Linked DNA regions of Homo sapiens: regions 1, 3, 4 and 5 are each linked to region 2. The links come from fine-mapping of genetic effects on gene expression. A gene starts in region 2. Each other region holds a variant in brackets. All regions are shown on one strand. Distances are from middle to middle.

Region 1 (6,173 bases), 22 kb before region 2:
ATTTTTTTTTGTTGTATGTGTGGTTTTTAAAAAAAATTTTTTAAATTATACTTTAAGTTCCGGGATACATGTGCAGAACGTGCAGGTTTATTACATAGGTATACACGTGCCATGGTGGTTTGCTGCACCCATCAACCCATCATCTACATTAGGTATTTCTTCTAATTCTATCCCTCCCCGCAAGCCCCCACCCACCGACAGACCCTGGTGTGTGATGTTCCTCTCCCTGTGTCCATGTGTTCTCATTGTTCAACTCCCACTTATAAGTGAGAATATGCGGTGTTTGGTTTTCTGTTTCTGTGTTAGTTTGCTGAGAATGATGGTTTCCAGCTTCATCCATGTCCCTCCAAAGGACATGAACTCATCCTTTTTAATGGCTGCATAGTATTCCATGGTGTGTATGTGCCACATTTTCTTAATCCAGTCTATCATTGATGGGCATTTTGGTTGGTTCCAAGTCTTTGCTATTGTGAGCAGTGCTGCAATAAACATAATGTGTGCATGTGTCTTTATAGCAGCATGATTTATAATCCTTTGGTTATATACCCAGTAATGGGATTGCTGGGTCAAATGGTATTTCTGGTTCTAGATTCTTGAGGAATTGTCATACTTCTACAATGGTTGAACTAATTTATACTTCCACCAACAGTGTAAAAGTGCTTCTATTTCTCCACATCCTCTCCAGCACCTGTTGTTTGCTGACTTTTTAATGATCGCCATTCTAACTGGCATGAGATGGTATCTCATTGTGGTTTTGATTTGCATTTCTCTAATGACCAGTGATGATGATCTTTTTTTCATATGTTTGTTGCCTGAATAAATGTCTTCTTTCGAGAAGTTTCTGTTCATATCCTTTGCCCACATTTTGATGGGGTTGTTGGTTTTTTTTTTTCTTGTAAACTTGTTTAAATTATTTGTAGATTCTGTATATTATCCCTTTGTCAGATGGATAGATTGCAAAAATTTTCTCCCATTCTGTAGGTTGCCTGTTCACTCTGATGATAGTTTCTTTTGCTGTGCAGGAGCTCTTTAGTTTAATTAGATCCCATTTGTGAATTTTGGCTTTTGTTGCCATTGCTTTTGGTGTTTTAGTCCTGAAGTCTTTGTGCATGTCCTGAATGGTATTGCTTAGGTTTTATTTAGGGTTTTTAGGTTTTAGGTCTTATGTTTAAGTCTTTAATCCATCTTGAGTTAATTTTTGTATAAGGTATAAGGAAGGGGTCCGGCTTCAGTTTTCTGCATATGGCTAGCCAGTTTTCCCAATACTATTTATTAAATAGGGACTCCTGTACCCATTGCTTGTTTTTGTCAGGTTTGTCAAAGATCAGATGGTTGTAGATGTGTGGTGTTATTTCTGAGGCCTCTATTCTGTTCCATCGGTCTATATAGCTGTTTTGGTTGCTATAGCCTTGTAGTATGGTTTGAAGTCAGGTAGCATAATGCCTCCAGCTTTGTTCTTTTTGGTTAGGATTGTCTTGGCTGTGCAGGCTCTTTTTTGGTTCCATATGAAGTTTAAAGTAGTTTTTTCTAATTCTTTGAAGAAAGTCAGTGCCCAAAGTAACTTACTGATTCAATGCTATCCCTATCAAGCTACCATTGTTATCACTAACTCTTACTGAAATCCTATAAGGTTGTCCCATCTACAGATGGAAAACTGTGGCTTAGTTTAGAAAGATTATCTTGCTGAAGACCATAGATCTAGAAAAAGTTTGGAGATTTAAAGCCAGGTGTGTTTGATTTAGGTTCTTTTCATGACACCACATGATCTTTGGAGGTTGAAGTCATAGAGAGCCACTTGCTATGACAGAGAGGAATCAACTAGAAGTTTACATATTCTCTTATTGGGTGCTTAGCATATGCCAGGCTTTGCGCCAAGCACCTAAGCTACAGCCATTGTGGACCAACAAATCTTTCCCTCAAAAACCTACTGTCTAGTCCTTCTGACACTGAAATCAAAGCTGCTTTTAGCCCACTGCCTATGAGAACATTTCTGACATATCTATTTATTTTGACTAAAAATGGTGCATAATCAGGCCATATTTCTGAAAATGTTAATTAGGAAAGCAATTTTCTGTTTTCATTAAGGACAAGTGTCTTGGGTGAGGAGAGGGAAGAATAAAAGTTAATATTTGGTGAAACACTGGGCCACACTAACCATCACATTAACCACGGGAAGAAAGTCAGCTTTGGGGTTTTAAGTGTTTAGAGGTCTCTTATTAAAAAAAAAAAAAGTTTATTTGAAGTTGCTATGGTTACATTTTATTCATAAAGGTAAAACAACTGAAAAAGTGGCCTAGAGAAATAATAATAAAGTCATGAGCCAACATTTGCCAAGTGCTCGCTGCATGCTCGGCACCACAACACATGCCTACATGTGTCATTTAATGTAATCCTCACGACAACCCCAGCAGATAGCCTTATAATTCTCATTTTACAGAGCAGAGTAAGGCACAGACAAGTACAGTTAACATGCCCAAGGTCCAACAGAAGAATGGGAATTTGAACCTAGGTAGTTTATGATCCAGGTTGATTAAATTCATTTAACAATTGC[T/G]CATTTGTCCCTTTATTTTGCTCATCTAAACACAGTATAGCACTCATTTCACTTAATTCAACAGAGAGTTTTGCTTCAAGCCTTCTAAAGTGTCATAATTACTCATTGTTATCACAAAACATGTATTTAGAACCAACCACATGCCAGGCCTCATACTAGCTGACCAATATACACAGTGTTTGGCAAAAGCTAAGGTAATGTTTATCTTTTAGGTTTGTGTTTTATGTAAGTCCCTACAATGTTATATCTTCTCATAATCTTTCTGCAGAAAATTACAAGCTGGCTGCAGAATAGCAATGAGTTATTCTTTTCTATTCTTTTGTGTAAGACATAATTCACGTTATGGAAAGGTCTGATTTCATAAACCTATGATTAGGTGAGGTAACATACAAACATGTAGATTCATTCAGGGTCTAGTTTTTACAGCTTTCTAAAGTCCATATGAGAACTCCAGTGTGTCTTCCTTTAAAAAATATATACCTTGTTTTTGGAAGATGATCTAGGGGGTAAGGTAAGATTGAGGTCACAGGAAACAAGGGTCCATGATAATTCAGTGCAAGGTGTTAGTTATTGTGGTTGTTGGCAGTCAGAGAGTGGTTAAGTGATGACCGTTGCAGCATCCTTCCTCTGGCAGCAGCAGGAGCTGGGTGACGCTGAGCTGCCTGTTTCCAGGCCACTCACTGTGGCTTTGATGTGCTGTGTCTGCAACTCATTCCCCAGTTCTGTTCTCCAGCATTTCATTGTCAGCCACGGCCAGGGTACCCCGCCGCCTCTCACTTCCATCACACAGCCAGCCCCAGGCAGACTGTTTTTAAAAACATAAGCCAGTCTTGCTTCTCTGCAGATGGAATGTTTTACGTGAGAAATAATCCAGCTGAGTGTTTGCTCCACAGTTTGAATAAGAATGAACTGGCCAGTGGCTTAGTAGGGATTCAGGTCAGGAATGTGTTCTGCTGTCAGAAGGGGAAGTTAATGGTGGAAATTTGTAAACTGCTGTTGTTGGGTTGACATAATATGTATGGTCTAGTAGGATTAGAAGTTGATTCTAGAGTTAGACACAGGTTGAAGTCCTGGTGTTGCTTTTCAGTAGCCACCCCTTGTGAGCCTCAGTTTTCCTTCCATGAAACTGAGGAAAAACTTGATGCAAGAAGTGAAGAGAGAATGCAGGTACAGTGTTTAACATATTGCCCGACAAATGCTCAGTTAATGCTGTCTATTTTTTTTTTTTTTTTGGTCATTTTGGTCTTTATTTTATGGTAAAGGGAAAGCAACCCACTGTTTTTAAATCTTCCGCAAAAGCATGGTTACCAACGGCCTAGAAAATGACAAATAGTGTTAACTCCTTCATATCAATACCCTTTCCACTAATATTGTTTCAAGTGGAGCCAGTATGATTATGCTTTGATTTGCTAGCATGATTAAGCATATAACAGTGTAAGAGTCAACTAACTGATGACTTTATCAGGGAAGCCTCCATTCTTATTTTAAATTTCCTATCTTCTTTTTTTATTTTTTTGAGACAATATCTCACTCTGTCACCCAGACTGGAGTGTAGTGGCTGTCGTAGCTCACTGCAGCTTCAGCCTCCTGGGCTCAAGCATCCTCCCATCTCAGCCTCCCAAGTACCTGGTACTCAGGCATGCACCACCATGCCTGGCTAATTTTTAAAAAATTTCTTGTAGAGACAGGGTCTCACTATGTTTCCCAGGCTGGTCTCAAACTCCAGGGCTCAAGCAATCCTCTTGCCTTGACCTCCCAAAGTGCTGGGATGATAGGCATGAGCCACTGCACTTGGACTGTCTTTGTAATTTTATCAGATTTACTTTAAATGCTTTGTCGTTTTAGTGACAGAAACATGTGCATTCATGCTTATTTTACTCTCTTGGTGTAATTTTCTTATATACAGCCCCTCTTTAGCCCTAACAGTACTTTCTGATTAAGTTTTCTTTTGTCTGGAATTAATATTGAAGCATCAGTTTTCTTTTCTGTGCAATGGAATAAACTAGTGATACACATAACATGGATGAATCTCAAAAAACATTAAGCAGAGTGAAGGAAGCCAGACACAAAGATTACATGCAGTCTAAAAGCATTTTTTAAAAGACTCTTGAAAAAATAAATCTAATTTATAGTGACAGAAAGCAGAGCAGTGGTTACTTGGGGCCAAGGGTGGGGTGGGGAAATTGACTGGGGAAGGAATAAAGGAAACCTTTCGTGGTGACAGAAATGTTCTGTATCTTGATTGTGGTGGTAGTTACAAGAGTGCGATCAAACAGTGTTCTTAAAATGGCTGTACTTTATTGTATATAAAGCATGTTGCAGTAAAGTTAAATAACAAAATTCTGATCGGATGGTTTCTGTCTTTTTTACAACATGGGTTTATTTAGCCTTAATTATTAACAACAGTTGCATACTCAAAGATTTCTAGATTGATAGCTATTTTCCCTCAACATTTAAAATACATTATTCTATTATCTACCTATTATTGCTGAGAAGACTGTCAGTTCCATTGTTACCGTGTCTTATTTTCTTCTCCCCGGAGCTTTGTTTACTTCTTGTTTTGGATGTTGTGCATTTTCAGTAAGATGTGTCTTGTTGTGTATTTGTATTTTTATTTATTTTGCTTAAATTTTGCTATGATTTATTACTAAATATAATGACTTCTTTCTTTAATTGTGGAAAGCTTTCAGACACTCTCTTTGGATATTGGTTCTCCAATCTCTCCATTCCTTCCTTTAGGAATTCCTATTAGATGTATGAATTAGACTCTTATTTTAACCTTTTAGTATCTTAATATCCCTTAGATATTTCATGTTTTTAATATCTCTTTTATTTGTGCTGCACTTGTGCTAAAATAATTTCCCTAGGTCTATCTTACATTTCATTAATTCTTTGTCACCTGTGTTGGGATTTCTATTTCAATGAGTATACTTTTTGTCACTATGATTTCAATTTCATCCTTTTCAAGCATGCCTATGTGTTTTTTAATATTTTCTACCTTTAGCTCTTTGGACATGTTAATCATGTTTATTTCTAAATCTCTTTCATTTTCTTCCATTATTCCAGGTGATGGTGTGCCAGTTCTGCTCTCTGCTGTATCTGTGTCCTGTTTCCTTATGTCGTTTGTAATTTTTGATCACAAGCACATTTTCAACAAGGTTTGTTTACCATGGGACCCCCATGAGGCCTGAACTACAGAAGTGGTTTGGGGTTTGCCTCTGCCAGGTCCCTGGAGGTTTCATTGGCCTTAGATTAATTTTTATGTTAAACTTCTGTGGTAAATTGTGTTTCTGGAGAAGACCACAACAATAGACCCTCTCCCAATAGCTCTTTTGTAATGTGATCTTGCCACTCCTCCATCAAGAGGTGGAGTTTATGATCCCTTCCCCTGATTCTGAGCTGCCTGTGACTGACTTTGATTGACAGAATGTGGCAGAAATGACACTGCATCACTTCCAAGACTGGCCTTATGAGACTCCCAACTTTTGCTTTCACTACTTGGAGAGCTCCCTTTTGGAGGCCAGTCATCGTGTTAGAAGCATAACTAACTGGAGACCACTATGTGGTGGAGAAGCTCATGCTGTCTACATATAGAGGGAAATGGCATATCAATGAATTAAAC
Region 2 (5,000 bases):
AGTCACATAATGTTAGAGCTGGAAAATTATGCTACACCTATGGATTTGACTAAGCTGTTCCTGTAGTTTGGCCAGTTTTAAAACAAAAAAATCCTGGCAACACACTCCTATCCTCCCAGCCCCAACAAATCTGGCTATCTCCATTCCCTGGTAGGTTCAAAACCTGTTTTTATTTCCATCCAAAAGCTTCCCCCCCACCCCCAGACATCGAGTGGTCCATCTAAAACAGTGATTGTTAATACTGTTTTGTAAATCTTCCAGTCCAGATTTATTCTAGAACTTGAGTTTGTTTTTAGATTGTTATAAATGTGCCTTTATTTCTAGCTGTTTGACATAACTTTTGGATGTTAATAAAAAAAATAACACCTTGGGAAGTATGGACATGGGTGGATAGAAATGTAATTGAGAAAGCCATATCCAAGTAGATTGAGGGAATTAGTAAAGGCCTCATCACGGCATACCCAAGTCATAACATGTTAAAAGTTTGCTCCGTTGGTGTTCATCCTCCTGAGACACCCAAGGCTGATGGCAATTATCCTATTCATCTTCTCCCACAAGTCTGTCTTTAGCGGAAGATTTTTTTCTTTACATAAAGAGCTATCATATAAAAAGTGCTCATAGTGCCAGAAATTGAGGTAAATGCAATTTGCAAACATTATTATCTCATTTAATTCTCTTGAGGATAGATAATATTAGATAAGGTAAGGATTAAAGAGAGGTTAAGAAACTTGATCAAGGACACCCAGCAGGGAAGTACTTAGCAGGGCTGTTCACTAGGGCCTGCTGTTTCTCTTTCCAGATGTACAGACTTTCTAGAGAGAACGATGTGCTCTGCCCACCCTCACCCCTTTGCTCTGCTGTTCTGCCAGGGACATGCAGGAGACGGAGGCCTTCCTCTTAACCGCAAGAGGCCTTCCTTTTTTACTAATATTCCTCAGCACAGACCCTTTACGGGTGTCGGGCTGGGGGACGGTCAGGTGTTTCTCTTTCTCCTTCCTGAGATCTTTGCTTCCAATTTGGCTAAGGCCCTTTCCATGTTATAGTATCATGTATCTCTTATTCTTGTCTTTCTCACTTAACTGTGAGCCCACCTTGATGTTAGATATTCTGAAAGTCATTCTCCTATCCCTGAAAGGTCTTCAATAAAGATTTTTCCTCCACTTAGTGGAAGGTGAATAAAGTTTATTCTTCCATTTAGTAGTGGCTCAATAAAAAAGTTTGTGGAATCAATCAAGGGATGAGTAAATGAATGAAATACTGAATTTTCCTGGCCTATGAAGGACCATGAGCTAAAGCAGCGGTTTAAAGTATATAGTCCCAAACAAAGAATTCTTACTAAAAACACACCGGATCTGTAAGGCAGAGGAGGGAGGGGCGGGAGGAAGAAGTCGAAGAGCAGGGTGTGGTATTCCAGGGAGACTGAAGACAGGAGCTTCCCATGGGACAGGCAGTTCATCCACAGGCTCAGCTTCTGCAACCTCCTTCCTGTGGTTACTCCTGCTCTCTAAGAATTCTGCATGTTCTCATCAAGAAAATACCAAATTCCTTGAAAGCCTGGATTCTGCCTTGTGGTTTGTGAGCCAATCTCATGACACCACCAGCCCACAGTGCTTTTCCTGATTCCATGGAGGCAAACTAGACGGAGCTTCTAGCAAGTGAAACTTCTTTTGGGTAGATATTTGGGGGCCGCTTTTAAAATTTTTCTGACAGACCAAGTGGTAAAAATCTGTGTGTGTACACGGAATGCTCTCTCCCTTCTGCAATGCGTTTACTCTCCTTGTAGAAATAACTGCTTCTCTTAGCCGGCTCTTGCTTGGAGCAGGGAAGAGCAAAGTCCTATCATGTACACATACACAGTTTATAAACATATACTGTACAATCAACATGTACATATATAATACAATATACACATGTGTGCATCCTGTATCTGTATACTGTATATCATGCATATACAATTTCATAAACAAGCTTGTACCAGGAAAAGGCAATAATTTATATATTATACACACATACATGTATATGTAAAATATGTACACACACACAAAATATACCATACAGAGTGTAAGGTTCATGACGTCTTTCTTTCGTTGATATTTGTGCTCACTTATTAGCGGTAAATTATTAATTTTAGATAAGCCCATCACAGAGTGAAGGCTCAATCCTTGAACAGCCCAGGGAGAACTTCGTTGCTACTTTTGAAAAGCCCTTTGATGTGCCCAAAGTCTCCAGAAGGGCGATGCCAAACCCACTCAACTTTGACAAAGTGTGAAACGTCTGTAAAAAGGAGTTCTCTGATGTGTGAGAGGAGACGGAACCGAGAAGAAAAGGCCGTACTCTGCCCCCCGCGGGACCCAGGTCCCCGCCTGCTGCAGAGCGCACTCTGCGCACGTCGAGCCGCGAAAGGTTCACAGAAGAAAACAAGAGAAAGAAGTAGCAGGCACTGAGGAGCCGCCGGCGCCGGCGCCCAGGACGGCACGTGACCCGGGGGCGGGGCCGCGCGGGCCGCGGGCCAGTGGATGGGGACGGGGGCGGGGCCGCGGCTCGGGGGGCGGGGTCTGTGGCGGCGCAGCTTACACCGCGGTCCCCTTATTTGGATCTGCGGGAATGTGGGCTGGAGAGGTCCTGCCGTGGTACCAGCCTCCAGCCTGCCCCCAGGACTGCCCCTGACCCAGGCGCGCCCGCTGCTCGGTGGCAGGAGGGCCGGCGGAGCGCCATGGCCTGCATCCTGAAGGTAACGACTTGGATCTGTGGCTCGGACGCGTGGTTGGCCAGCCCCTTGCTGCTCAGAGGCACGGAGTCAGCCGCGGTCCCACCGCATCCTCATCTCAGTTGTCTTTTCCTGGCATTGATTTTCTTTTTGTTCCTTTGGCAAATGCATATGGAGGGAGATTCTGAAACATGCAGCTGGCACAGCTTCTTTTCCCACCATTCCTGCCTCCTGCTCGCGCCTGCATTGAAGGAGCTGCAGACTGTTGGCTCCAGGGGAGAGCAGGGCTGTGTGCCGAATAATGGGGATGGTAGGGAGAGGAGGGGTGTTCCCGCGGGTCCCGCGGCTCTGTGGAGCCTGAGGCCTTTCAGGGGCCACGGGGAGGGGTGGAGTGGCTAGGCGTGAGTTGCTGGTGGTGAGGGGCATAGCGCTTTAAATGGAGGGAAGAGTGAGCGGAGGTGGGCTCTACTGTGCATTTGATCATGTGAAGACAGAAACTTCTGAGTTTACAGGTAGTCCCTTAGGAATGAGTTTTCTATGAGATCTGCTAGCTCTGTTTGCCCTTAGCTCTACTTTGGAAAAGTTCACACGAGGATGTATATGTTAGTAGAGAACCTCTCACTCTCTTTATGCTCATAAATTTGAATAGACAAAATGATTTTATGCTCTGCCAGAGTGCGCTCAGCCATCCCTTCTTTGTTGAGTTTTCTTTCTCCAAGACCGGATTCTTAGCCTCACCTGAGCATCTTTCTGGGTTCACAGACTTGTGGCCTCAGGTGGGAGAACTTGGTGTGAGGGCCTCACTTAAAAAGAACTTTCCATCCCACTGGTAGAGGCCTCCCCTGCCCTCGTTTTTTTTTTTGCACTACCTTTCTACAAGAACATAACCTGGATGCATGAATCAAAAACATGAACAGCATGAAAGTTTCCTGGGCCTTGACTGGAGAATGCAGAGACCTAGTTGTCCAAGCCTGGGGGAACTGTGTGACGATGGAAAATACCAGGAAACAATTCGTTGTTGTTGTGTTATTGTGAAGTAGCATTTATTTCTCTATAAGATGATATTAAGTCATCTACTGTGTTCTGGTTACCTGAATCGTCTTCTAACGTGCCTGGTGTCAATGATGAAAATAAGAGACTAACCTCGTAGAAGTTGTTTCCCCTTCTTTGCGTAAAGGAGATCAGAAGTTTCCTGTGAGCTTTCTGAACTTCCTCTTTTTGTTTCAGAACATTTTCCAGGACATGAGGAAATAATACATCAGTATTACAGTATGGGGTATTTGACCGGGAGGCTCTTAGCACAAGGACTGAAATATGAATATGAGTCATCTTTACTATTCATTGTGTTATTTGCTGAAAGGGACATTGAGGAGCATGATATTTATTGCTGGCCATCTTTTTCTGTTTTGGTTTCTCCCCTGCCTTGTCCTATACATGTGGTAAACATCTTTAATGCACATCCCAAACTACACATGAATCTGGTCCAATCTTTCTCTTCTAGCACTTCACACTGCTTTCAGACATTTGGGACATATCTGTCCACCTTATCTTCCCTCCACTGAAACTAATGTGGGCTTTAGACTCAGAAAGATATGTCTGGATGCTGGCTCTGCCCACTGCTACCTCTGTGATGTTGGACAAGTTACTTAAATGTCTCTGGGCCTTAGTTTCTTCAATATAAGATCAAAGTAGTGGCACCTGCTTCACAAGGTTGCTGTGGGAATGAAATAAGATAGGGTATGAAAAATACTTTGTGGCACAGGCATTTAATATGTGCCATTTTTTTCCTCTAACATATAATAATAAGTGCAGTTTGGTTGATCCTTACTATATCCTCAGTCTGTTTCTTATAACTATTATTTTTTATAAAATACAAAATGTTTTTTATTCTTTAATCTTTACATAAAACCCTGAAAGATAAGTATCATTGTTTTAAACCCCATTTTACAGATGAGAAAGTTGACGCTCCCTAGTTTAAGAGATTTGCCCAAGGCCACACAGGGTTAATGACAGAGTGATCCTGGATTTAGACCCAGATATGTCAACCTTCCATATACTTTACTGCTGTTCCAGTACTTTCCCAGGTGATGACTTTTAAGATGGCCTAATACCATTCAGTTCCAACCACCTTTGAGCACCTTTGAGCAATCCCCTTCTCTGGTCATGGTCTAGACAGTCTGGGCTGGATCTTTTTTCTTTGTTGTCTTTGAAAAGCTACACATGGAGCAGTGCAGAATACAGGTTTCAGTCCAGAGACCTGAGTTCAGTGCAAGCCTGGCTTCTTGCATATGAT
Region 3 (5,000 bases), 31 kb after region 2:
TCTTTTTGCCTGAAGAACATCATTCACTATTTCCTTTATTGTAGGTCTGTTGGTAACAAATTCTTTTGTTTTTTGTTTGAAGTGCTTTATTTTACTATCACTCTTAGGGATATTTCCTCTGGGCATAAAATTCTAGGCTATCTGTTATGTTCTTTCAATACTTAAAAGATATTTTATTTACTTCTGGCTTTCTTTATTTCTGTTGATAAGTTAGATAAAAATCCAATTTTTGTTTCTTTTTCACCCTTATGCTGATTTTTAGTTTTTTTTTTTTTTTCTTTGTGGTTTTAGCAGTTTTATTGTAATTGGCCTGGGTGAAGTTTTCTTTTTACATTTCCTGCTTGGGGTTTCTAGGATTCTTTGTCTTGGCTCCTTCTGAGGCCTGATATCTTTCTTCAGTTTTGGAAAGTTCTCAGGCATCATTCATCTTGTCAAATATTGCTTTTCCCCATTCAGTCTCTTCTTTTCCATTTCCATGGGCTATAGTTACATATGTGTTATACCTCCTCACTGTATCCTGTAGTGTCTTATCCTGTATTTTCCATCCTTTTGTCTTTCTATACTTTATTCTAGTTATTTTCTTCTGGCTTCTAATTCCTGCTTCTGCTGTGTCTGTTCTTCCTTTATTAAGTTATTAATTTTAGTTAATGTATTTTTAGGCCTAAAATTTTCATTCGACTCTCTCTGTTTCTGAGTTTCTCATTTTTATGAGTTCCATAGGATGGCGTAGCAAATTACTAGAGACTGGGTAGCCTAGACAACAGAAATGTATTCTCTCACTGTTCAGGAGGCTGGAGGTCAAGGTATCAGCAGCCACACTCCCTCCAAAGGCTCTAGGGAAGAATCCACCCCTTGCCTCTTTTAGTTTCTAGTGGCTGTTGGCCTTCCTTTGCTTGTAGCTATCTCTCTGTCCCTCCATTTCACATGGCCTTCTCCTCTCTGTGTCTGTCTTAAAATTTCTTCTGCCAATCTCTTATAAGAATACATGTGATTGCATTCAGGGTTCATCTTGATAATTTAAGGTAAGTCCTCCTCTCAGCACCCTTAATTCAGTCACATCTTTTTCCATATAATGTATTATTTGCTCCTTTGCTACATAAGGTAATATTCACAAGTCTCAGAGATTAAAATGTGGACATATCTTTTTTGGGGCCACCTTTTAGCCTGCTATACCATTGTACGTTGAAATTCTCAACTTTATAATTTTCTCTTTCTATAAATAGGAAGACTTTTTACAAAAAGTCTGTTTCAGATAATTCTAGTATCTGGAGGCTTGTGGGTGGGTTTCTATTTCTGTTATTTCTGCTGGTTTTGTTTATGTCTTCTTATCTCCTTATGTGCTTGGTTATTTTTAATTGTGTGTGAGACAGTATATTCGTACAATTTTTTACAGATATAATTTGAGGTCAAGATTGAGGTTTCTCAACCCCAGAAGGGATTTACATTTGCTTCTGCAAGCACTTGGGGCATTAGAATTCTGGAAGCATCTGATTTTAGTTTCAGATATTGAGATGGCTTGAAGATGATCCATAGACCTCTGCAAGGGCCTCTTAGTTCTCTATTCTCCCTTCCTGCTAGGACACAGCTCTTTGAGGAGCCCAGTCCAAAACAAATGATACACCTGGTCAGTTCCCCCATCCTTAGCAGGACTTAAACACAAATCTTTATTTCCTTGGCTCCTCAATATGTCGTTAGGGGAGAAATAGGCCCAGAATGCCAGCTTCTTTTGTCCAGACTTCTTCCTTCCCTTGATCCTGGCCTGACGCTTTTTTTTTTTTTTTTAGATTTGAGGTGTTTTAAAGCATTTAATAAATGCTTTTTCTCTCTTTTACTTATCTTCAATGGGAAGGTGTATTAGTCTGTTTTCACACTACTGATAAAGACATACCTGAGACTGGGCAATTTACAAAAGAAAAAGGTTTATTGGACTTACAGTTCCACAGGGCTGGGGAGGCCTTACAATCGTGGTGGAAGGTGAAAGGCATGCCTCACCTGCGGCAGACAAGAGAAGAGAGCTTGGGCAGGCAAAGTCCCCTTTTTAAAACCATCAGATCTTGTGAGACTTATTCACTATCATGAAAACAACACGGGAAAGACCTACCTCCATGATTCAGTTACCTCCCACTGGGTCCCTCCCACAACACGTGGGAATTCAAGATGAGATTTGGTGGGGAAACAGCCAAATCATATCAAAAGTTTTATCTGGCATATCTAGTGAGTCATTATCAGAAGCAGTAGTCTCTCTGAAGCTTTTCTCATCTATCCACCTTACATTTTTATGATTAAAAATTCCAAAAATTACAGAAGTGGAGGGAATAGTCCAAATATTCCCCCATCACTCAAATGCAACTCTTATCAAGATTTTGTCACAATTTGCATGGAAATATTCACAACCTATAAGAAGAGAAAGTTTTAAAGCAAGGCAATATCTCAACTCACAGCCATCCACTTACCTCTAATGGCCAGCATCAGAGACAAAGACTTCTGCCTTGGTTACTGCTGTCCTGAGCTTCTAGCACAGGTGTGCCCCTAGATGATTTCAGTGAGCTATTGTTAAATGAATGTGAATTCACTGAAGAACCACAGACTGTGGGAGCTGGAGGAAGTCTTGGCTTGTCGTAATGAACCACAGATTACAGATGGAGATGCTGA[C/T]ATCCTGAGATTAGGTCACAGAGGTGCATGGGAGAGTTAGGCCAAGGTCTCAACTCAGGGCTCTCTCCACTTTTCCACACTTCCTCCTCATTTTGCTAGCTCATTTAATTACCACTTTTTCTTCCTTTCTGATAACACTGAAGTTTAAGAGCATTTCATTACAAGTGTGATGATACAATGTGGTATTAAGACATGACAAGGCAAGTTTTATTGGCCATTACTATTTGCCTCAAGTGAGTGGCAAAGCCTTTGACCACTCGAGGCATATATTAATAGCCCTATAAAATACATCCTGGATTGCTAGTGCTATTACCGTCTGGCTATTACATTTAAAAAAATATTGTACAAATACCACTTCAAATAATTTTCTTACTCTTTTTTTTAAACTGGAACGATTAGCTTTTTTTATGAGAGACAATTCTTCACATGATGGAGAAAATAGAATTGTCAGGTAACATGGAAAGAGTATAAGCTTTGGAGTCGTACCAAACTGTGTGCAGGTATTTGCTCTGCTATTTATCATCACTGTGACATTAGGCACTTTTCTTAAACTCTCTGGGTCTATTTTCTTCTCTGTCAAATGACAACAAGAATGCTTGTCTTTTAGAATTCATATGTATATGAAAACACCTGGCATAGGGCCTTGAACATAATGAGTGGTCAATAAATCTTATATTTTTGTTGTTGTTATTATTGTCATGATAATGAAATCCAATGGGAAATTTTTTCTTTTAATTAGTTGATTTATTTGTAAGACTAAAAATGTTGTTGTTATAACAGATCCTTGTCTTGCAGGGCAGTCTTTCTTTGTTTCCTCTCTAGCCCTCATCCCTTGGAAAAATGAGCTGAACCATGTTGGTTGGTGCAAGAGGGGCTGACAGAAGAGAGTTTTGATAAATCCACAAGATAACTTTGGAAACTCTTTGCCATTTTCCCTCCTACTCAATGCTGCTGGGACTTTGAGCTCGCTGAGGCAGTCTAAGGCTGTGCTTTGACTTCAGTGCTGTGCCTTGTGCTTGGGATAATTGTGTTTTCCATTTGATGGCCCCCAATGCTTTGTGTAGGAATTGGATGGTGCACCCATGCTCCTCAAATGCTGAAGCAGTCATGTCACTTGGTGGGGTGAGGTGGATCATCAGCAACAACATACTTTTCTTTTCTTTTTGAATTAAGCACACGGAAAAATCCATAATCTAAACATGAGGGACATTAAGTTTTGGATGGAAGAGAGTGAATTTTGCAACAATAACAACTAAAAACCCAGGACACAGAACAATTATTGAAAACAACTTGCTGAAGTATATAAATAAATAAAAGTGTCATTTCTGAAGTATCTTTCCTTCCCTAGGCTCACTGCCATTGTCATGGGAAAAGTGTGCATGGCAGCATTTACTCTGAGGTAATAACATGGATACATTTCCCGTTGCTCAAGACTTGTACATAGAGTCTGAAGACAAATTCTTCCTATCTTGCTGAGAAATTAACTTCTATTTTTCCATTCCTGTGAGCCAGAAGGGTAATTACCACATGCTGTTCAGTCATGAGTTTATGGAAAGAAACACAGGCTTCATTCAGGGTCTTCACCAACTGGGTGGGGTTGGGTTGGTCATGGAGAGAACTTACATTGTGGGTTTACAGCTGTACTGCAAACATTTCTTCAAGTCTGGAGCAAACTCAGCCCCTCTTTCCTGACTAACTTCTTCCCTGCCTAATCCAATGAAGACAATGGTTGATGAGAATAATAGCAGTTATTGCATATTAAGTATTAATCAGACATGTTATTCTTTAAACACACTTTTGCTTTTTTTTTTTTTTTTTATAATAATCAGGCATCCAATGAGATCTGTCCTCTTTTTATCCTCATTTCACTGAGAAGGAATGGTGGCTCTGAAGAGTTAAATAACTTGCCTAAGCTCACAATTTTAGAAGGTATGGCCAAGACTCAAACCCAGATTGGTCTGATTGTCAAAGTTGTGTTCTATTCTTAACCAATTTTCTACTTTCTTTGGTACCATGATTATCTCCTTGCCTTATAAATATTCTTGTATGTGGTATTATCTTTGTCTTATTATTCATAGTACACAGGGGCTTTTTTTCTTCCTACTTGCATTTCCAGTTCCTTCCTTATTAATCAGTGTGAGCTTTTTGCGATTGAGCCCTCTTTTCTCTTGCCCCACCCGCCAGCCCACCTCCTGTTCAAATACAGCCCTGCGGGTGAACACTATGGGCGACCCATGTGTGTGGGCTCATAGGAAGATGCAATGTGGAGAAGAATGGAAGCTTCTATGGCAGATCTACATTCTTTTTTCTGTCCTCTCCCTCTCTCTACACCCAATGTACTTTATTTT
Region 4 (6,173 bases), 63 kb before region 2:
ATGAAATACCACTGAGACATTAGACTCAGCTCACCTCTGTTCTGAGGCAAATAGTACCAAAATGTCATCTAATATTTAGCGGTGACATGAATTTCTGTGGTATTTCAGGCTATTTATTGCAAAAATTTATATATTTATATTTTTTCCAAACACTGGGGAGTTTCAGTAAAGGCTTCATTCTCCGCCTTCCTCCCTCTCTCTTCCCACCCTCATTTCCTTTTTCTCTCACTCTGATTCTAGGTCCTTCTCTTGTTAATCTTTCGAATCCTTGGTTCTTATTCCAGCAACAGCGTGGAGGTGGGCAATGTGCATTGACATACTTCATCTTCATTTCTTTTTATGTTCATGGGAATCTTCATAGCACATTGATCTGATGCTTTCTATAAGTCTATTATAAAATGTTGATGGGATTTTGTGGGTCTTCCTGATACTAGACAGATCTTCTGAAATTTAGTTATTCTTTTTTGGTTTGTTTACAAGATAAAAACCATCTGAGTGTCTGGGGCCCAAGGCCTAAAAACCTCAACATCAGGGAACTGTAGTAGTCACCGCTCACCATGTCCTTTTCTTCTTCTTGTCCTTGTTCTTATTTTTTCTTTTTTTCCAGCAAAAATTGGTTACTTTGCTTCTGTCACCTATTGAAAGAACTGACTCTTGATAGCAGGAATGAACCAAAGAATCTTTTGATTGTTTTAAGACAAAAAACCTTGAATGATTACAGCTAAGACTACAACAAAGTGAAAAGATTTTGCAAAGCCCAGATAAGATAACACTGAAATCAATATCACTAAACATTTTCAGTAATTCCCTCTATCACAAAGCTTTCTGTGAACCTCTCCACTGAAATAAATCCTTTTATCTTTAGTACCTCTCTCACCTTACCTGTACCTCTCTTCTAAGACTGATTTCATTCTGGTTGACTGTATAGGCTTTGGGCTGTGTTTTATTCATCTCCATATTCTGGTACCTAGTATAGAGCTAAGAGGTACATAGCACATGTTAAGTTAGCACATGACTACAAAGTTTTAGGCCTTTAGCACATGTTAAGTTAGCACACGACTACAAAGTTTTAGGCATTTAGGCCTCACTTACACAATAAATATTTACTGAGTATCTACTCAGTACCAAGCACAGTTCTGGGCACTGGGATATACTGTGATAAGTAGGACTGTCGAAGTCTCTGCCCTCATGGAGCTTTCACTCTAGTGGGAGAGACTGATAATACACAAATAATATGGAATATAATGTCAGGCAGTGAAATGGCAATGGAGAAATAAGGATAAGAGGATAAAGAGGATGGGTGGGATGAAGGTAGAGCACTATTTTGTGAGAACTCAGAGATGACAAAGGGGTAAATGAAGCCATGAAAATATCTGAGGAAGGAGCACTCTAGGCAGAGGGAATAACATGAGTGGAAGAGCAAGAAGGCCAATGTGACCAACAGGAATGCTCAGAGAGGAGGTTGAGACCAACAGAACGGGATCATATGGGATCTTGTAGGTCATACAATAGTATATTTTTAGTATGGTGGGAAACCAATGGAGGGTTTGGACAAGCAATGCACATGATAAGGAAGTTCATTTTAAAAAGGTTGTCCTGATTGCAATATTCAGAATGGATTATAGTGGGATACAAGTGGATGCAACAAAACAGATTTGGGGAAAGTAACTTCAGTCTAAGTTGATTAGAGTATATGTGATTAGGGTGGTTAACAGTGGTTAGATTCCCAATACAGTTTGGAGTTCAAATTATCAGGGCTTATTTTGACCTATTAAAATTCTCCTAGAAGGTATGCACTTTACAGAAGTTACACTGAAGTGAAGGCTGATACTTGACTGGTCAGGCTATAATCTAACACTGTGGTTCTCAAATTTCTTGGTTCCAAGACTATACTCAAATATTATTGAAGATCCCAGAGAGTTTTTTTTTATGTGGATTAGATCTACTGATAAATATATATTTTTAACATATTGGTTGATTCATTTAAAACCAACAATAATAAACTTAATAAACCAATTATATGTTAACAGAAATAACATAATTTTGTGAAAACTATTTTTTAAAACAAAAACATTAGTGAACATAATGGTATTGCTTTACAGTTTTGCTAATTTCTTTAATATCAGAAGACAGCTGGATTCTCATTTCTGCTTCTGCATTCAGTCTATTGTGATATAGCATATCATGTAACTTCTGAAAAACTTCACTGTACACAGGTAAGATAATTTTAAATCAAGTTTAGACTAAAGCTGCCTCCTTATATATTTTAAGTTCAGCCTAAAGGTTTCTCTGTACGTCGTGAACTATCACCTAAATGGAATTGTAAACAGACTGTGGCCTACTGTTGTGCCAATCACTGAGTTTTGGCCAATCAAATGTGGCCAACTGTCCAAATGAGGCAAATGCTGAGTTGTAACCAACTCAGCTGTTTCTGCACCTCATGTCCGTTTTCTGTAGGTCACTTTCCTTTTTCCATCCATTCATCTTCCTCCATGTGGCTATGCTGGAGTCTCCAAGCCTACTCTAGGTTGGGACACTGCCTGATTCACGAATTGTTCTTTCTCAATTAAACTCTTTTAAATTTAACTTGGCTAAATTTTTTTTAAAACAAGAATGAGGGTAAAAAAGATCAATAACATATTAGTATTACTATTTTTAGATGCTGACCTCACAGACTCCCTGAAAGGATCTCCATGACCTCTATGGTTCCTTAGACTGCACTTTGAGAACTATTGACGTACAGGGAAAAATGCTCTTGGTGGTAAGATTACAACTCTATATAAAAGAGATAAAAGCATCAGTCCCATGAATTAGCATGATAAAACCATTATAAAATGTCTTTATCACTTGTAATCACCAATGCTCTATAGAAAACCCGACCACAATTTAAAGATTGTTTTACATTAGGGGTCCATAACCTTTTAATTCCGAAAACAC[T/C]AAGGGGTAAGCATGAAACAGCAAAGATTCTGACATAGGAGAACAAAGCAAGGAAAAAAAAAAAGAAAAAGAAACAGGCCGGGCAAGGTGGCTCGTGCCTGTAATCCCAGCACTTTGGGAGGTCAGGAGTTCGAGACCAGCCTGGCCAACATGATGAAACCCTGTCTCTACTAAAAATACGAAAATTAGCCAGGCATGATGGTGCATGTAATCCCAGCTACTCAGGAGGCTGAGGCAGGAGAATTGCTTGAACCTTGGAAGAGGAGTTTGCGGTGAGCCGAGATAGTACCACTGCACTCCAGCCTGGGTGACAGTCCAAGACTCTGTCTCAAAAAAAAAATTAATAAAAGAAACAGAAACAGACTTATAGACCAATGATAAAGAGGTGACAAAAGAGAAAGAGAAAGAATTTCTGTTGCGGGAGTGGGAGACTAATGATAAAAATTGCCTTTGGATGGCTCAGTGGTTCTCATGTTCATTAGCCATTCTGATCTAACAAGTCAGCTTTGCTCAGGCAGCCTGGTTCTGAACTGTGTGCCCTAAGGCCTTCCCCACAGAGGGGGGCCCAAGGAGGAGACACCATACATCTGAAGCCATATGTTGGTCTAACATTACTCCATAGGTTGCAAAAATAATCTCCACCTAAGCTTTTCCATCTCCAATGCCAACACTTCATTTCTCCAAGTGAAATTCTGGCTTTAATACTATATGTGTCATAAAATCCACCGCAGGTGAGTGTGACTGAATATAAAATAACCCAGTGCCCCATTTGCCTGGATCAGAAATCCAGGGAGTATACTCAGACAACCCCAGGAGTGAGGGAAAAGGGAGAAACTTTATCCTCTCCAAACTAAGCATCAAGCAAAACTCAGCTTGTCTTTCCAGAAAACACAATGGTTTGGTACATGACATTCAACAGCAAAACTCTACTAACACTCAACTTTTGCCAAAAGGAGCCACAGGAATCCACAACATCCTTACGTGGCCTTAAATATCAAAGTAATGTGTAAGATATCAGAATACGTCTTAATGAGCCAGGCACAAGTTTCCAAAGAAGTTCTGCTGAGTTTTACTCAGTCTTATAGAACACAAGCCCAGCTGCTGCTAAAAGTAAGGCAGCTTGAAATTTCTGTGCTGGGTGAAAGGTGGCCATAATGTCAGTGGTCTGCTTATTCCCCTTGTGGGAATGGGACTTGGTACTCTGCTATGCATCTGACACCATTGAGAAAGGTTATTTGAGCCCAGTGGGGCTGGTAGCAAAAGTCTAAATGCCTACCAGCTTACAGCTAGAACATATGTACCCCCATTGGATTGTCATAGTGTTGTGTACAATGTACCTGTTTTTTTAATCTCCAAAACTTCCTCTTTTTCTTTCTCTTTTTAAAAATGCAAATGAGAATGGCACTGGCATCTCAGGGTTTTAAAGAGCAGAGAATGCCTATTGTGCAGTGATGTGTGACTGAATCCAGCAAGGAGGTTAGAGACACATTGTCAGGAGCTAGCTGCAAATCCATGGGCTTAAGAAGGCCATGACTTATTTACAACTTCTTATTTGCCACTGGTGTCATTTGAGTTTTTATGGGTTTTAATAAAGAGTAATATACATATATTGTTCTCTTTTGGAAAACAATCATGTCTGAAATGTTCCTGAGATTCTTGTAACAGTTATCACTTTGTTTTTGCAGTTCCAGTTAAGCACAGAATAAAATCTGGACTGTGTCAGTTTGTAAAGATCTTATGTCTACTTGGTCATCAGGTAAAATTCCTTTCTGTGTTGTGAAAAGAGGCAGACTGAAGTCATTAGTCACTGCCAATGTTGTATCAGTTCTTGCTGGTTTACTCTCATAGCACTGGAGACATTAATAAAATGGGCTGCCAAGGCCCCTTACAGGCAAACTTGTAAAGTAGGAAGCAATTCTCTTTGGTTGATTCCTTCTCAAAGGCAGTGGGTGTTGTAGCATCAGTGAAAAGAATTAAGATCATTGGCTTTGCAATCAGAGATATCTATGATTAGATTCCGTTTCTTCGGAATTGGTTCAACAAATATTTAGTAAGTGCCTACTAAGTTCTGGCCTCTTTTCCAGGCATTGAGATGCAATAGTGGGAAGAAAACAAACATGGGTGCCTGTCTGCTAGTTGGGGAGGCAGCCACTAGCATCCCGGTGACAGGCTTAAGGCTCAGCCTTATGCTGAGCAGTTTTTTACCTTTCAGCTGCAAACCTTCCTTTCTGTACAGTACTACATGGGACTGGCCTAGGACTCTTTCTCTTTTGCCCACTGGCTTCCTGTAAGGGTCTATGTATCAGTCTGTCTGCATGCTGCTGATAAAGATATACCCAAGACGGGGCAATTTATGAAAGAAAGAGGTTTATTGGACTTACTGTTCCACATGGCTGGGGAGGCCTAAAGGTCATGGCAGAAGGCAAGGGGGAGCAAGTCACATCTTACGTGGATGGCAGCAGGCAGAGAGCTTGTGCAGGGAAACTCCTGTTTCTAAAACCATCAGATCTTGTGAGACCCATTCACTATCACAAGAACAGCATGGAAAAGACCCAGCCGCATGATTCAATCATCTCCCACAACAGGTGGGAATTATGGGAACTACAAGATGAAATTTGGGTGGGGACACAGAGCCAAACCACATCAGTCTGCAAATAGGGATGCTAGAGAGAGACTAGCATCTAGTGGGAGAAGGGGCTTTCTTCTTGTTTTTTTGTTGTTCCTCTCAGCATCATCCCAACAGTGACCTTGGCCTGACAGCAGCAGTTGGTTCCAGTCTCCAGCCTCTTTTGAAAACCTGAGAGCCAGCCTGTTGGTATGTTCTCAGAAGTAATGGCAACAGCTAGGTCATGCTCCTCTTCAGAGGTCTGAGCCCCAGCTCTTTCTCAGAGCTTCTGGGCTGTGATTATTCCAACCTCTTCCCTGAACAGCAGCTGCTCCTGCTGTTGTACATCAGAGTTACCCCGGCGAGCCCTGTTGTCTATTCAGCCCTCCACCATCTGGAAAACCAAGTCCCTATAGTAGATTTTATGTTAAAATGCTTCATGCGGTTTTTGTTTTCTTGACAGGATCCCTATATACTCATACCATACAAGCTTATCTTAAGATATTTGAGATTTGTAACAAGTATGCTGGGGAATAGTCAACTGGTTATGAAGCACATCATCTTGATACATTCACCATTTTCAATAACGAAAAGAGAGCAAGAGAGTACATGTATGTAGTTACATATTTCG
Region 5 (5,482 bases), 34 kb before region 2:
GGAGGAAGGTCTACTTGTTTATTTTCCATCTCCTGTGGAGTATTTGACATCTGGAAGTTCCAATTAGCATTTTTAAAGTTGTGTTTCAGATCACCCTTATGATTTTCAATTGGCATTAATCTGAGATGCCCCAGATGATCTTTTACACTTTCGTTAAACATTGTGATGATGCCTTTATAACTTCTTCAAATAGCTGAACCACTGGCCAAATTTTGAAAAGCAGATCATCAATCCAGAAAGTGTGACACTGTGTTCACACAACCAAGGATTGCAAATGATGCAATTTTAGCACCATATTCTTCATCTAAGACAACTTACCAGAATCCTTTGCATAAATTAATAGTTAAGGTTCTTTTTATAATTCTCTAGTGATCCACTAGTGCACCTTCTCTAGTGACTGACTATGCGCAGACATCAGTATCTACATAGAGTCTAATCAAGTTGTCCAGTTGATATGCTGAGATCCCTGGAAAAAACCAGGAATCTTCAGAAAAGCATTAGTTACCTCTAGAAGTGCTATTTCTTCCACTTTCTTTCTCATGTTACCAAATAGTTTCGCATTAGCTCTAAAGGAGGTAATCTACTTACTCTATCAGGTCCCTTATCTGTATTATCTGTGGCAAAATAATTCTGCTGACTTTGCTCTGAATAATTACCAAGAGCTCACTTAACATGGCTATAATTCTCTCCCCATCTGACTGAGGAATGTTCTTAAACTCCCTCAATCATTCCAGCCCACATTCTTTCAGTATAGCAACAGCGTGTCTGTAACTTTTGTTTCCTTTAATTCAGGATCATCAGAGTGGGTATAAAACAATGACCACCTTTCACAGAATGAACTATACTTACAGTGTTTAATATATATTATCTCATTTGATCCTTAGGACAAAAAGTTATATACATATATGTGTATCTATAAATGTATGTATTTATCGCTTTTTATAGGTAGTATTGAAACCACAGTTCAAGGGCAGTAGCCCAAGATTACTCCACTAGTGAGCAATAAACTTGGGATTTTAAACACAGGCTTTGGTTTCAAAAGTCAATTTTTTTAAGGCTCATAAAATAATTCTTTGGCTTAGCAAAGCCCCTTGCTTATTTATATATACCACTTTAAACATATTAAGTATATTAGTTAGAAACATTTTGAATACTAGTGACAAAAAAAAGTAACTCAAGCTAGTTTAGTAAAAAATGGAAATTTATCAGTTCAGTTGTCTGCAGGAGAAAGCAGGGGTGTGGCTGAGCACAGGCCCATGGAGCTAGGGACTCTTGTTCTCTCAGGCCTCTCTTTCTCTCCCTCTTTTTCTTTCCTTTTCTTTTGCACACCACCTCCCCATTCCCCGCTTTTTTTTTCCAGACAAGCTTCTTTACATAATGAGAAGCAAAACCTTCAGCAACATCTCTAGCTGGTTTGGGTTAGATGCCCATCTCTGGACTCATCAATTGTGGCCAAAACAACGGGGCCCTATCGTGTAAAGCCCCCTTTAGAACCTCCGCATGTCTAGAATCAGGGAGAGACGAGATTCCCCAAAGAGGGAGGTTAACATTCCCAGAAGGAGGGAATTATATGATTTCAACTTATATTCTCATATGGATAGAAATGCATTTACCACACTCCTAATGTAAATCAGAATTTCTGATTTTCTGATGCTCTAACCACATTTCCTAATGCTACATTGCACCCAGCACAATGTCTGGCACCCAGAGATGTTCAACTGCTATTCTTCAAAGTATAAATACATTTCACCCATTTTTACTTTCATTCTACTGCTTCATTAAAAATATTTTGTATTTCCTTACATTCCATCTGGAAGTCTATAACTTAGTACCTGTGTAATAAGGGATTTGGCACTATCACCTCTCTAAAATAACATGTTAAAATGGTAAGCATTCTATGGTTTTCTTGGGGAGACTTTTTTTTTTTTTTTCTTTGAGACGGAGTCTTGCTCTGTCGCTCAGGCTGGAGTGCAGTGGTACAATCTCGGCTCACTGCAACCTCCACTTCCCTGGCTCAAGCAATTCCCCTGCCTCAGCCTCCCGAGTAGCTGGATTACAGGCGCACGTCACCACACCCGGCTAATTTTTTTGTATTTTTAGTAGAGAAGGGGCCTCACCGTGTTGGCCACACATGAACTCCTGACCTCAGGCAATCCACCAGCCTCGGCCTCCCAAAGTGCTGGGATTACAGGCGTGAGCCTCCGCGCCCGGCCAGGGAGACATATTTATATGTAAAAAGCAAATGTATCTTGTCATTGGATGCTCATCCACAAGAGTCACAAACCCCATTCTAACACCAGCTTTGTGGTTTACTAAGTGATATCAATTTCCCAGCGTGGCAGATGACAATGTGTGTATGTAACTTGAATAAAAGCCAGGGCAAAGAGTTGAAACCAGCCTCATTGTCTGGGTATTACTGGAAGTTCTTGTTATCACGGCAGAGGAAATCAAGGATGCGGACACTCCAAAGGTGAGGTTAGAGCAGAAGTTTAATAAGCGAAAGGAAGAAAGCTCTCGGGAGCAGAGAGGGGTCCCAGAAAGATGGGTTGCCATTTTACAATGAAATGCAAGGGTTTTTATAGACAAGCTGGTGGGGAGGGTGTTTCATTTACATAAGGCTCAAATTTCTGACAGTTCCCACCCCACTTTTTCTAGTGCTCATGCGGGCTCCTTAGTCTGAGTTACTCCATGTTGCCTATCTCTTCCCACTGCGCATGTGTGAAAAAGGCCAGGAGGCGGGACCCTCTACAGTGGACGCTCCTGGTCCAGGGTAGCTCGTCTTATCAGTGCTGCTGCAGGCACTCCCTGCTGTGCAAACCTCCTTGTCTGAGTATTTCCAAGAAGGGAGAGGACTGTGCTTACTGGGGCCCACTGTATGTCTGTATGTCACACAGGAGGCCCCTTTCTGTGTTAGAAGCTGCTTTTTTGTTAGAAGGGAATTCTACTTAGGACCCTTGCCCTATCTGCCTAGTTGATTTCTTTCTCTCTCCTCTCACAGAGTGTCACAGAAAGAACTCCAATCCATCAAGCAAAAGTAATTAACAGCAATTCAAATCTTTATTGGACTCTTAGAAAATAAACAAGGAGATCTAATTTGTAGCTCCCACATAGATTTTTGTCTCCACTCCTGTTGTTTTTAATTAATTCAATAATATTTACTAAATGTCTCCTATGTGTCAGACGTGCTTCCAGTGCCCATAGAGCCTGCATGTCTCCACTCCCCGAGTTCCCCTCTCCACTCCTTGGATTCAACTCTCAACTTCAAACTGAGTTTTGAAGTCAGTCAGGAGTGGGGGAGGGCGGTTTTTTTTTTTTTTTTTTTTTTTTTGAGACGGAGTTTTGCTCTTGACACCCAAGCTTGAGTACAATCACGCGATCTTGGCTCACTGCAACCTCCTCCTCCC[G/A]GGTTCAAGAAATTCTCCTGCCTCAGCCTCCCAAGTAGCCAGGATTACAGGCGCCTGCCACTACTCCTGGGTTCACTTTTTTTTTTTTTGTAATTTTAGTAAGACGAGGTTTCGCCATGCTGGCCAGGCTGATCTTGAACTCCTGACCTCAGGTGATCCACCCGCCTCTGCCTCCCAAAGTGCTGGGAGTACAGGCGTGAGCCACTGCGCCTGGCCGGGAGGGTGGCTCTTGACTTACAGGGCCTCCCCTCCCCTCCAAGGTCTTCTTTAATTCTGCACATTATTTTAATTATTTCTAACAAGTACCTTGATCTTCATTTGTGAAATCTAGTGACCCAAAGGCAGCTCCCAACCTCCCTGGGAGTTGATAGGGGTGGGGTTGGGAAGAGAGGGGAGAGAGGAAGAGCTGCTCTTCCCAAGAAGGGTTTTTGTTTTGTTTTGTGTTTATTTGTTTTGGCTTTTGGTTTTTAGTAGATGGGGGATGTACACGTGAGAGGTGAGGGAGAGAGCAGACTGCAAACCCTGTAACTGATCCATGTATTATCTGTTCTTTTAACTGAGTAACATGCTTTTCAAAAGTGTTTTTCCATGTTTCAGAGACAGAAAAGGGGAGAAAAAGAAGAAGAAAAGGGAGAGGAAAAGGTAAAAGAAAAGAAGAGAATGAATTGCAGCTGAGGAAGTGGAAGAGCGAGAAGCGCTTCCAGATACCAGGTAACCTCTTTCTTTGACTCCTGATTTGCCACTCATCTCCCTAAATGCCTTAATGACCTGTCACACAGGTGACTCACATGAAGGCCACATGGTGTATGTTTCTCTTACCCCTGTCTGCTATTGAAGACATAGGATTTAGTTTTGGGAAGATGTGTGCTGGAGAAATAAAAAGCAGACACAGTGGTTGAATGCAAAATGAATCATAGGAATTATCCAGTAAAATGGCTTAAAATCATATTCCAGGCTCTGAAGTCATGGAAAGTCTCTCTTAATGCATTGGAACCTAATCTAGTAATTTCACCTGGGTTCCCCATCCAGGCATCTCTTTTCTAATTTGTTCAGAAGTAAACAAGGTAACAGCTTTTAAACAGCCAATTGCCATGGACATTGATAAAATCTACAGGTTTCATTACTTGATGTCCAAAGACATTTCGTCCTATTTACATCAAAAACACTTTGGAATTCTGAAAGACAGCAAGCCTTTATTTGAAAGAAATACACGTTGAAGTTCTTTAAGGATGAAAGCAGAACTGTCTTGGAGCTGATGCTAAAGCAGAGTGAGAAGACCATGTGTATTTTCAAATAAATTTTGAAAAACTCCTGAGACTTGGGAAAGGGTGTAATAGAACAGTGCCTATAACTGAGCCTTGCAGAAGCTTATCACAGCATAGAAGAAATTGATGGAAAACTCACATGGGCATCAGAAGTTTCCTTTTATTGGAAACTTTTGCAGTTTTGGAGACTCCTTATAAAGACCTGAGTTGTTAGCAGGCATCTAAATCTGGCACTAGAAACAATTGAGATGATTTTACAGTGTATCTGCCCAGATCCTCACTACTAGATTTTCTGGGTGTTTTCTTATTTTTGACACTTGCCTCAATCAAATTGAGGCAGTCTTTTAAATTTCTGTCTAAAATTAACTGGTATTTTCAGGTATATTGGCATCATTTTAAAATCCATTTATTTTTAAGAACATTTGAATGTGAAAAGAGATGTATATGCAAACTGTTGGATCAGGCAAGTTTCCTTCAGGCTGTCTGGATGTGTCTATCTATAGCATTTGGCACATACCTAGCTGTCACTCAAAAAAGATAGCTGATGTTCAAAGTTAATCTGAAGTACCTACTTGAAGTCTGCTTTATTTATTTTTTTAATTTGGCCAGTTCATTCTTGGGGAATGGAAAGGAAGGAAAATGGCCAGGCACAGTGGCTCATGCCTGTAATCCCAGCACTTTGAGAGGCCGAGATGGTCTGATCACTTGAGGTCAGGAGTTCAAGACCAGCCTGCAACATGGTGAAACCCCGTCTCTACTAAAAATACAAAAATTAGCCAGGTGTACTGGCATACACCTGTAATCCCAGCTACT

The links. PIP is the estimated chance that this variant, and not a neighbour inherited with it, causes the effect. A credible set is the group of variants that fine-mapping cannot tell apart.
Region 1: its variant is the best candidate, but not a certain one, in a credible set for the expression of ST6GALNAC3 in whole blood (INTERVAL, PIP 0.88).
Region 3: its variant is the best candidate, but not a certain one, in a credible set for the expression of ST6GALNAC3 in whole blood (TOPMed, PIP 0.88).
Region 4: its variant is the best candidate, but not a certain one, in a credible set for the expression of ST6GALNAC3 in whole blood (GTEx, PIP 0.76).
Region 5: its variant is the best candidate, but not a certain one, in a credible set for the expression of ST6GALNAC3 in whole blood (INTERVAL, PIP 0.70).

Annotation. Positions count from the first base shown.
Region 1 is chr1:76,049,896-76,056,068 of GRCh38, forward strand. It overlaps LOC124904200, which reads left to right. Exons shown (of 5, transcript XR_007066173.1): 3 at 5,618-5,709. Among named protein-coding and RNA genes, the nearest start is that of ST6GALNAC3, 22 kb to the right of the region's middle. RefSeq lists an enhancer at 2,856-3,356. The variant T/G (reference allele first, on the strand shown) is at 2,552.
Region 2 is chr1:76,072,154-76,077,153 of GRCh38, forward strand. It overlaps ST6GALNAC3 (ST6 N-acetylgalactosaminide alpha-2,6-sialyltransferase 3), which reads left to right and starts at 2,593. Exons shown (of 5, transcript NM_152996.4): 1 at 2,593-2,731. The coding sequence starts at 2,714. RefSeq lists a silencer at 2,394-2,593.
Region 3 is chr1:76,102,845-76,107,844 of GRCh38, forward strand. The region is part of intron 1 of ST6GALNAC3 (ST6 N-acetylgalactosaminide alpha-2,6-sialyltransferase 3); the gene reads left to right. Among named protein-coding and RNA genes, the nearest start is that of ST6GALNAC3, 31 kb to the left of the region's middle. The variant C/T (reference allele first, on the strand shown) is at 2,653.
Region 4 is chr1:76,008,638-76,014,810 of GRCh38, forward strand. LOC101927342 (a long non-coding RNA gene) reads left to right here and starts at 2,687. Exons shown (of 3, transcript NR_125939.1): 1 at 2,687-2,761; 2 at 4,623-4,693. The variant T/C (reference allele first, on the strand shown) is at 2,938.
Region 5 is chr1:76,037,784-76,043,265 of GRCh38, forward strand. It overlaps LOC124904200, which reads left to right and starts at 3,581. Exons shown (of 5, transcript XR_007066173.1): 1 at 3,581-3,900; 2 at 4,002-4,115. The variant G/A (reference allele first, on the strand shown) is at 3,405.